Regions from separate parts of the Homo sapiens genome. Here region 1 is linked to region 2. The links come from fine-mapping of genetic effects on gene expression. A gene starts in region 2. The other region holds a variant in brackets. All regions are shown on one strand. Distances are from middle to middle.

What was found.
Region 1: its variant is fine-mapped to the expression of RBM19 in whole blood (TOPMed, PIP above 0.99). The same link has a PIP of 0.9 or more in skeletal muscle.

Annotation. Positions count from the first base shown.
Region 1 is chr12:113,813,827-113,819,203 of GRCh38, forward strand. It overlaps a transcript of RBM19 not described here. Among named protein-coding and RNA genes, the nearest start is that of LINC01234, 43 kb to the left of the region's middle. RefSeq lists enhancers at 4,122-5,049, 5,050-5,377. The variant G/A (reference allele first, on the strand shown) is at 3,229.
Region 2 is chr12:113,964,149-113,969,525 of GRCh38, forward strand. RBM19 (RNA binding motif protein 19) reads right to left here and starts at 2,177. Exons shown (of 24, transcript NM_016196.4): 1 at 2,044-2,177. The coding sequence starts at 2,079. RefSeq lists enhancers at 599-1,527, 1,528-2,455, 2,414-2,483.

The sequences.
Region 1 (5,377 bases), 150 kb before region 2:
ATTCTCCTGCCTCAGCCTCCCGAGTAGCTGGGACTACAGGCACGTGCCACCATGCCCGGCTAATTTTTTATATTTTTAGTAGAGATGGGGTTTCACCATGTTAGCCAGGATGGTCTCCATCTCCTGACTTTGCGATGACCCACCTTGGCCTCCCAAAGTGCTGGGATTACAGGCGTAAGCCACCGCGCCAGGCCTAGGTCAGTGTTTTTCAAATCACTGAGGTGTTGAGGGGGAAGAGGAGTCTGGGTGGGGGAGGTCAGGCCTGTACCCTGACTTGGAACAAAGCAGTTTTGCTTAATCTGTTTAAGACATTTGTTTGGGAAACGGGTTCTGGGGCCAAAGGAGTTTGGAACCATCTAGAAGTGGCTTCAAAATGAACTTGAGGCCTGTGCAGTGGCTCATGCCTGTAATCCCAGCACTTTGGGAGGACGAGGCAGGAGGATTATCTGAGGTCAGGAGTTCATGACCAGTCTGGCCAACATGGCAAAACCTCACCTCTACTAAAGATACAAAACTTAGCCAGGCATAGTGGTGCATGCCTGTAATCTCAGCTACTTGGGAGGATGAAGTGGGAGGACTGCTTGAACCCAGAGAGGCAGGGGCTGCAGTGAGCCAAGATCGCGCCACTGCACTCCAGGCTGGGCGACAGAGTGAGACTCCATCTCAAAAAAAAAAAAAATAAAATAAAAAAATTAACTTGAAGCATTGAAGCTATGAGATTTCCCAGGTCTGTCTACACGGGGCTGTTAGTTCCCATGCTGACTCTTAGATTTCTTTTTTTTTCCCTTTTTTTTTGGGAGACAGCATCTCACTCCATTGCCCAGGCTGGAGTGCGATGGTGTGATCATGGCTCACTGCAGCCTCGACCTCCTGGGCTCAAGTGATCCTCCCACCTCAGCCTCCTGAGTAGCTGGGACCACAGGCCCACACTACCACAGCCGGCTAATGTTAAAAATTATTTGTAGAGATGGGGTCTCCCTATGTTGCCCAGGCTGGTCTCGAACTCCTGGCCTCAAAGCGATCCTCCCACCTCAGCCTCCCAAAGTGCCGGGATTACAGGAGTGAAGCACCGAGGCTGGCCCCTTTTAGATTTCTTAACCAAAGAAGGATAATTTCCTGTTATACCTCGGTCCAACCCTCTCTCCTCAACCTGAGACACGTATCCTCCGGTGTGTTCTCCACCTCTTAGCAGTCAACAGCTTACCGAGTTTAAAGCCAGTTCCTGCTTCCCTCCAAGCCAGCTCTTCCTGCAATGGTCTCAGCGCACACTAGCTTCCTTCTTCCCACTGCTTGGGCTGGAGCCAGGGCGCTAGCCTTGGTTGTGCACACCCCACAGCCAAACCTTTAGGCCACTGGCTGCATTTTCAGTCTGTCTACAGGCTTGGGCCACCTCACCCCTCCACTGCCACCTCCCTGCTCTGAGTCACCACCTCCCTGCTCTCCTGGCCACTGCAATGGCTTCTGAACACCTGTCCCTGCTTCAGTCCTTGACCTTCTGCTATTGATCCTTAACATGGTGGCAGACTGGGCCGGCTCTGCTCCCCTCCACAGGCCCAGACTTGACACCCAAGCCTGAGCCGGGTTGGCAGGCCCCTGCCCACTCTCCCTGGCTTTTTCTGGGGCCCGGGCTGTCCCCCTCACTCTCCCTTGAGCACACAGAGCTGTCCCCTTCCTCCCAGCTCTGCTCACATGCCACCTCCTCAGGGAGCCCTTCCTTGACCCTGCCAGACATCCCCAGAGAGAATGGAGCCTCAGCAGTGCCAGGGAAGCAATCCTCCACCCACTCATGTCTGGGTCTCCCCACATTTGACTACCAGCTCCTCGAGGCCAGGGAGTCTTATCTGCTGTGTCAACTCCTGCATTCCCAGCATCATGGCCATGCCTGGTGCACATAAGCTCAACACACATTTGCTGGGTGTTTCAGGTTTGAACCTCTCCCTTGCGCTCCTGGTCTGTATGAGCCCTGGAGGATGAAGCCAAGGACTCAGTCCTTGGAAGCCAACTGTCCTGAAGGTGGTCTCAGGGCTGCCCCCATCATCCCACTCTACCCTGAAAACCTATGATGCCTGGTCAATGCCTGGCACTGTCTGTCCACAGCCATAATGAGCTGCCACGCATGCCCACTGGTCCGGCACTGATGGCATTTGATATTTAAAAACAAAACAAAAAACACACTAGGGGTTCCATGGCAAGCAGGAGCTGAATAGGAGAATCTCACTGGGGGTGAGGAGAGAGAGCCCTTCACCCACACCGCCTTGAGGACAGGGCTCGAGTCGGCACACATTGGGCCTGCTCTTGCTGCCTTGAGGATAAGGCTCGAGCTGGCACACATTGGGCCTGCCCTCGCTGTAAAGAGGAGACAGCAGTTCAGGCCCTGCAGCAGGAGCGAGAGCACAGGGTGTGCCTCTGAAACCCAGCATAGGGCCGGGCCCCCTGCATGTGGGAACTGCCCTCACTGCTCTGGGGAGGTAGGGGCTTGGGCTTGTGCCAGAGCGAGCTGAGTGTGAGCCTGGTGGCAGCCCTCTGTGCAGCGCCATCTTGGGAATGTCACCCACCTCTCCATTTCTACATCTCCCATCAACTTACCTCTCACAGTTGCTAAAAGGACAAAGTGGGGCCACTGATTCCTTCCTCGAGTATTTACTAAGCATCTACTCCACGATGCAGCACGCACAAAATGGGCACAGACCTTGCTCTCCTGGGACTTCCGGTCCAGAGAGAGAGGTCAGACATGAAATAAAAACACAGAAACTGTTCACAGCTGTAAGGAGCTAGGGAGGTGTTCGGTGTGACGAGTGAATCTAACGAGGGGCCGGGGCTTGTCTAGGATGGGGCTTGGGAAAGTCATCTAGGCAAGGTGACTATTTCAATGGCCTAGGCGGCATGGGTGAATAAATTATTATTATGCAAGCATTCTATTAATCTTTTATTATTAAGACGGCTGAAAAAAATGATTACATATTATTAGTGAAGCTCAGTGGAAGAGAAGTGGGTGGAAAAGCTCTAACCCGAGAGGCCGCTTTCACAGGATGGGAGGATGGGTTACATTTTGCAAGGTGTACCAAAGGGTTAAAGTCATTTTCATTAAAATTTAAATTTCAGCATGCGCTCACTCTCCCTTCCCCGTCCTTTGAACGTTTGACTGGCAACCATTTCATATTTCAATCTCGGCAGAACAAATTGAATTAGATGTTGAAACCAAGCTCGGCTCTGTTCACCAAAGCCTGC[G/A]TGCTCTGCTCACACTAATCCTTTCCTAGACGCTGCGGAGCACAGACGGGCGCTGCGAGAGACGGCCCTGCACAAAAGACAAAAAAGACCAAGGCGGCAGGAAAAGGAGAGGAGGAAAAACAAGCGGGCAGAGGCTGCTGGAAATTGTCTTCCACCTGATGCATGGGGCTTAAAGCCTAGGAGACAGAGCCTGCGTCCACGCAGCAGGGAAGGCCAGTGTGGAGGCACACAGAGCGACCCGAGTTTCTGTCTTGTGTCTGGGGCACCCAGCACAGTGTCTCGCACACAGCAGATGCCCAGCAGGTGTCTGATGGATGAATGAATGAATGAATGAATGAATGAGGGAGAGGACTCACTCTATCAGCCCGTGCCTCTAGCCTGTGCCTGTTCCTCCCCTCTGCAGAGTGGGCCCGGCTATTCTCCTCACCCTCACAACTTCCTGAGAAGTGATAGCATGCTGCGCTCAGTGGCCTGGTGGCTCTCCAGTCCCCGTGCCCAGTGCAAACCAGCGGAGGATGCCAGCTCAAGTTTCTGGGGACGAAACAGGCAGACCTCCGGGCCTGGCTTGGGATCCCAGTGGCACCCCAGGATCACCCCATGTTCGCTGGCTCTTTCTTTAAACTGTGTAAGTCTGTGGAATGACCTAGAGGTGCTGACCCAGGGGCCCCGGAGTCTGGTTTTCAGAAGAGACAGTTCTGCTGCCGTGGCCATGGAGTCCTCACCCACTTGAGACCCCCCAGTTGAAAGGGTTAGGAACAGGCTGGGCATGGTGGCTCACACCTGTAATCTCAGCACTTTGGGAGAACAAGGTGGGTGGATCACTTGAGGTTGGGAGTTCAAGACCAGCCTGGCCCACATGGTGAAACCCTGTCTACTAAAAATACAAAAAATTAGCCGGGCGTGGTGGCTCACACCCGTAATCCCCACACTTTGGGAGGCCGAGGTAGGTGGATCACTTGAGGTCAGGAATTCGAGACCAGCCTGGTCTACATGGTGAAACCCAGTCTCTATGAAAAATACAAAATTAGCCGGGCGTGGTGGTGCATACCTGTAATCCCAGCCTTGGGAGGCTGAGGCGGGACAATCGCTTGAACCAGGGAGGTGAGCCCAGATCACGCCACTGCACTCCAGCCTGGGGAACAGAGCGAGACTTTGTCTCAAAAAAAAAAAAAAAAAAAAAAAAGAAAGGGTTAGGAACAGACACACAGACACAGCAATAGACAGGCAGCTGCTCCTGTGGGGGTGCTCACCTGTTTCCCCACAACCATTGGCCCATTTGGGCTTGAACTTTGGTTCTGTGCAGGAAGAGCCAGGTGCTGGTTTGCCTACTGGGGCCAGTGGGCAGGGGGGCACCTCCTACAGGCTCCTTCCTGGATCATAGGCTCCTCCCCAACATGGCGCAGCGCCCTGTGAGTCCCTATCCCGCCCCAGCCTCTGGACGTGGGCCCAGCTGGCCTGACATCTGCTGGGTGCAGCCCCACAAGCTTGCCTTGTTTTGAAGTTATGTTCACAATAATGATGGCAACTACCATTACTAAGTACTCACTAGGCATGACACAGTCTGCTAACTACTTTCCATTCATGACCTTCTGTTTCTGTCTTAACCAATCCAATGAGGCAGGAATTCCTGCACCCATTTGAAAGACATGGAACGCAAGGCCTGGAGACACTGAGAGCCTAGAGATTCTAACGCAGGCCTTTGGAGTCAGGGCCTGTGCATTCCGCTCTCCTCCTCCCGTCCCCACTGTCTCTCACTCCTGTCCCTCCTCCAGGCCCCACTGTCCCTCACCCCTGTCTGTTCTCCAGGACCTGTCTGACCACCCATCTCCCTCCTGCAGTCTGACTGTGTGTATCCTATAGTAGAGATGCCAGGGCCCTCCTCACCCATCCAGGGGTGGACCCTTGGTGGAGACGCCACGTGGGACAGAGGGAGAGGGCGGGATGCCTGGAGTTTCTCTTCTACCAGCCTTCCAGGCGCCCGCTAGTGCCCACTGCTGGCCAAACTGAACACAAGCCTCTTGATAAGGGAGTTTCAGAGACACAGCTCAAGGGGCCAGGCCCCTGAGACCCACAGCGGGTGGGAGACGGACGTGAGGACAGCAGATGCGGTTCCAGCCAGCCCTCCACTCTGGAAACAGCCTGTCCCCGT
Region 2 (5,377 bases):
TACTCACTACTAATTATTTCCTCAATTCAATCCCTAAACTAAAGATTGCTCAATTCAATCCCTGCTCTATAAATTACACCAGTGTGTGACCTCAGGCAAATCCCTGTACCTCGCTGTATCTTGGTTTCTTTACCTTTAAAATGGGCGTAAAAATAAAACTTACCTCACAGGGATATGGTGAGGATTAAATGTTACTTTACCTAAAGCACCTGGAACAGTGCCTGGCACACAGTAAACTCTCCAAGTGTCAGCTGCAACTGCCCTTGTTTTTATTATTCTTTCATTCATGAGATAAGACAAACAATGATAAGAGAGTCAACTACACTGTGAAGTGCAACAAAGCTGAATTTGGGAAGAAAAGGAAGTGCAGCCACGCTAAAAATCCTCATCGCACAAAGCAAGGCATCAAGAGACATGTCTAACCTGATGGATGGATGAGTAATAGATATTTTTAAGTATACTACTCAGAGATTATAACAGGATAATTAAAAACAAGAATATTACAGACACTGGAGAGGAGGAACAGATGATCTAAATTCCTTATTTTTCACAGTTGAGGCCTAGCAGATAGTCACTGGGGCAGGCAGGTCAAAAGGAGGAAAGTACACTCCTCAAATATACAGAGATACATGTGAGGAGTCCCAAAAACAAATCAATGAAGATGGTTACTCCTGGACAGAGAGGGAAGGTAGGACAGAGCAAAGACTTTGCTACTCATGTTATACACTACTATACTGTTTGAATTTTGAAAACTGTGTGTTACAAAGTTCCTTTGTCCCACCTGACAAATGAAAAAAAAAAAAGGAAAGGAAAAAACTCACAACATTAGAACAGAAATGGGGGCCAGGTGCAGTGGCTCACGCCTGTAATCCCAGCACTTTGGGAGGCCGAGGCGGTGGATCACCTGAGGTCAGGAGTTCGAGACCAACTTGTCCAACATGGCGAAACCCCATGTCTCTACTAAAAATAAAAAAATTAGTCGGGCTTGGTGGCGCGTGTCTGTAGTCCCAGCTACTTGGGAGGCTGAGGCAGGAGCATCGCTAGAACCCGGGAGGCAAAAGTTGCAGTGAGCCGAGACTGCCGAGATTGCTCCACCGCAGTCCAGCCTGGGAGACAGAGCCAGACTCCGTTTAAAAAAAAAAAACAAAAAAAGAAAAAAACAAAAAACAAAACCAAAAAAAGCCATGAAAGAGAGAGAAAAAAAAGAGATAAGACAAACAATGATAAGAGAATCAACTACACTTGAAACACAACAAAGCTGAATTTGGGAGGGAAAGGAAGTGCAGCTACGCTAAAAATCCTCATCCCACAAAGCGAGGCATCAAGAGACACTGTCTAACCTGATGGAAGGAGCAGTAATCCATTTAAAAACAAAAAAACAAAACAGAACAAAAAACAGCGAGAGAGAGAAAAAAGGATGATCCATTCGAGCCCACCGCATCTAATCATCTAATATTACGTACATTCACCTATTTTGCCTACCACGTGTCGGGTTCTGCGCTGGGCTCCAGGGAAACAAAAAAGTATGGCTGGGTCACCACTCCCCACTTACTGGATAAATGCTGTAAAGCCCTTTACCCACTCCGTATTCCTACTTGCCCTAAGGATGGGAGTGGGAATTGGAACGCAGGTCCGCAGATTAATATTCCCCATGTCTTCCCCAACAGTTTCCAGACTGGGAGAGGAATATAAATACAGTGTCGGACCATGTCCCGGGTCAACAACTAAAAAACAGTGATCGAATGAAAGAGGTTGTGGGAGCAGGGTATTCGCCACAAGGTGGGAGTTGTCATCTCCCCGAGAAGAGGTGTGTTAGGAGTCAGGTACCAAACAACCGGCCGTGAAACCGTAAGCAGTCACTATTCCTCTTTCCTCGGGATCAAATGGGGATAAGCCCAGGATCCCGCCCCCTTTGAGTTCAGAATTGGCCCGGAGTCCTGCCCCAGAGCAAAAATTCTTCGATCACCTCCAGGCATCTCTTCCCTACCTCACAGCTCCCGGCTGGTCTCATTTCAGATTCCCAAGTCCTGCCTCTGCACTCACCCCATTCGGGAGATTCTTCACGATCAGTCGCGACATGGCGCAGGGTCCCCGCTGTTTTGATTCCAACACGACTGGTCAGCGTCTTCCACCAAGTTTCACGCTACCGCCCTGGGCGCCGCCATCTTTACCGAGCCGGAACACAGTCACGTGGCTGAGACCTTGGCCTGACCTGTCCGGAAGTAGGCGTGGCTAATCCAAAACTACTCAGGGAGGTCACACCCCACAAGGGGTGGGCCTGGGCGCTTGCATTTTGCGCAGGCGCAGGGCCTTGGGCGGATTCTGTGAGACGCCAATGCAGCGGAGAAGGCGGCAGGGGGCGCCGGTCCCTAACATGCGCCGGTTTAGCTCGGTGTTAAGGGTCGCGCCAACCGGGCAATCGCGTTCTCTCCTTTTTCTTATTTTATTTTTATTATTGAGCCTTAGGACTCCCCTGAGAACGGGGGCAAGATTAGGGACCCTTGCCTTCCTCGTAGAAATGGGGAAAGTGAAGTTTAGAGAGATTGCCAGCCAACACAAATCAAGTATTGAGCCTTTTGTGTAAATACTTGGAATGAACATGTTGGAAATAAACGCTCTCATTTTGCAGGCAGATAAACTGGGAATCGTGCGTGTAAAGCAGCTTGCTCAAAGTCTTATAACTATGAATTGGAAAGTCAGATTCGAGCTAGGGACTGCCTAGGGCCCTACAATGAGTCTCTACGCCTTCAACCCCAGCCCCACAAGCATTTTGCCTCCCTTCCTAATGTTTGGAACTCTCAGCTGGCCAATCTTCTAGCTGAGAGATCTTGGCCAAAATGGCCTCTGAGCCTTTGTGTCTACTTCTATAAAATGGGAATAATTCTTTATTATGCTAGGGGTTAAGGAGGTGAGAACGTGAAAGGGATGTTATTTTCCTATTGCTTCTCTGAGCATTCTCGGTACCTACTCTTGGATGGAGACATCCTATGAAAACCCCTATTTTCACTCTTAAATGACGGTATTTCCTTTCTGTTTCCCCACAGTGCCTCAGCTGCACTGGACGTTGCTGCCAAGCTTCTGCAATTTCCTTCACCTAAAAGACATTCCGTCCCCCCTTCTTATTGTTAACAGCTTTATCACAAACCATGCAATTCACCCACTTAAAGTGCACAATTCAATGGTGCTGACTATATTTACAGAGGTGTGCAGCCATCACCACAATCAATGCTAGGACATTTTCATTACCCCCAAAGAAACACCACACCCTTTAGCTATAACCTTCCAATTCCTCCCTCTCCCTTCCCTCTGATAACCACTAATCTACTTTCCGTCTCTATGGATTTGTCTGTTATGGACATTTCATGTAAATGGAATAATACAATATGTAGTCTTTTGTAATTGACTTCTTTCACTTAGCATAATGTTTTCAAAGTTCTTCCATGTTGCAGCATGAATCAGCACTTTATTTATCTGTTTATTTATTTGAGACAGGGTCGGGCTCTGTCACCCCGACTGGAGTGCAGTGGCACAATCTCAGCTCACTGCAACCTCCGCCTCCCAGGCTCAAGCCATCCTCCCACCTCAGCCTCCTGAGCAGCTGGGACTACAGGCACATGCCACCATGCCTGGCTAATTTTTTTTTTTTGGTAATTTTTTGGTAGAGGCGAGGTTTCAACATGTTGCCCAGGCTGGTCTTGAACTCCTGGGCTCAAGCAATCCACCTGCCTTGAACTTTCAAAGTGCTGGGATTACAGACGTGAGCCACCACACTTTTTTTGCTGAATAGTATTACATATATGGATGTATTACATTTTATTTATTCATCAGTTGATGATGGACATTTGGGTTGTTTCCGCTTTGTGGCTACTGTGAATAATCTTGCCGTGAACATTTACCTGTAAGTTCCTGTGTGGGCATATGTTCTTATTTCTCTTGGATATATTCCTAGGAGTAGGATTGCCTGATCATATGGTAACTCTATGCTTAACCTTTTTAGAACCTGCTAACCTGTTATCCAAAGTGGCTTCCCCATTTTATATTCCTACCAGCGGTATATGAAGGTTCAAATATCTCCACATCTCCTCCAGTGTTTGTTATTGGGTCTTTATAATCATAGCCACTCTAGTGGGTGTACAGTGGTGACTCAATGTTTTGATTTGCATTTCCCCGATAACTAATGAAACAGCATCTTTCATGTGCTTTTGGCCACTGGAATATCTTTCTGAACCCATTCCCATCCCCTCTCTAAGACCAGCTCAAACATGGCATCCTCGAATATGCCTCTTTCCTACTGAGCCCCAAATGCAGGGAGCTCATGCATCTGCCACAGCATAAACCTACAGAACTCGCTGGTGAGGAGCGCACAGTGTAGGTTCAGAGTTATAGATGAGGCCACTTGTTCTTTCTACATTATGTTGCCATAGGGGCATCCTTAGATCCATCTTTGCAAAGCATCACACTGGGCACCAGGAGGAGACAGGTAATAGGAGTTCATTAAATGCTAATTGTAAATTAAGGTCTGTCCATTCAACAGAATTCTATGCAGTTGTTAAAAAACGGTAGGTATGTAGCTATAAATGTTTTTGAAGGAAATGCATCAGTCAGCAGGACACAGAGGTATACTCAAAAGGATTTAACAAAAGCAAATCTGGACAAAAAGCTATTTACAGAAGGGTGGGCAGTGTAGTGGGATGAATGATCCCCTGTCCCCTCACCACCACACACACTGGGGGCATCCTGACCCCTGGAAGCTGTAAATGTGACTTTATTTGCAAAAAAGTGTTGTATTAGTTTGTTCTCACGCTGCTAATGAAGACATACCTGAGACTGGGTAATTTATAAAGGAAAGAGATTTAATGGACTCACAGTTCCACATGGCTGGGGAGGCCTCACAATCATGGTGGAAGAGCAAGGGATGTCTTACCTGGTGGCAGGCAAAGAGAGAATGAGAACCAAGTGAAAGGCTTTCCCCTTATAAAACCATCAGATCTCGTGAGACTTATTCACTACCACGAAAACAGTATGGGGAAACCACCCCCATAATTCAATTATCTCCCACTGGGTCCCTCCCAGGACACGTGGGGATTATGGGAGCTACAATTCAAGATGAGATTTGGTGGGGACACAGCCAAACCATATCAAGGGTCTTTGCAAATGTACTTAAGGGTCTCAAAATGAGATCATCCTGAATTATCCTGGTAGACCCTAAATCCAATGACACATGTCCTTTTAAAGGACACACAGAGAACGTCATGTGTAGGTGGAGGTAGAGTCTGGAGTGATGCAGTCACAAGTCAACGAAGACCTGGAGCCACCAGAAGCTGAAAGAAGCAAGGAAGCGTTCTCCCTTGGAGGTTTTGGAGGGAGCATGGCCCTG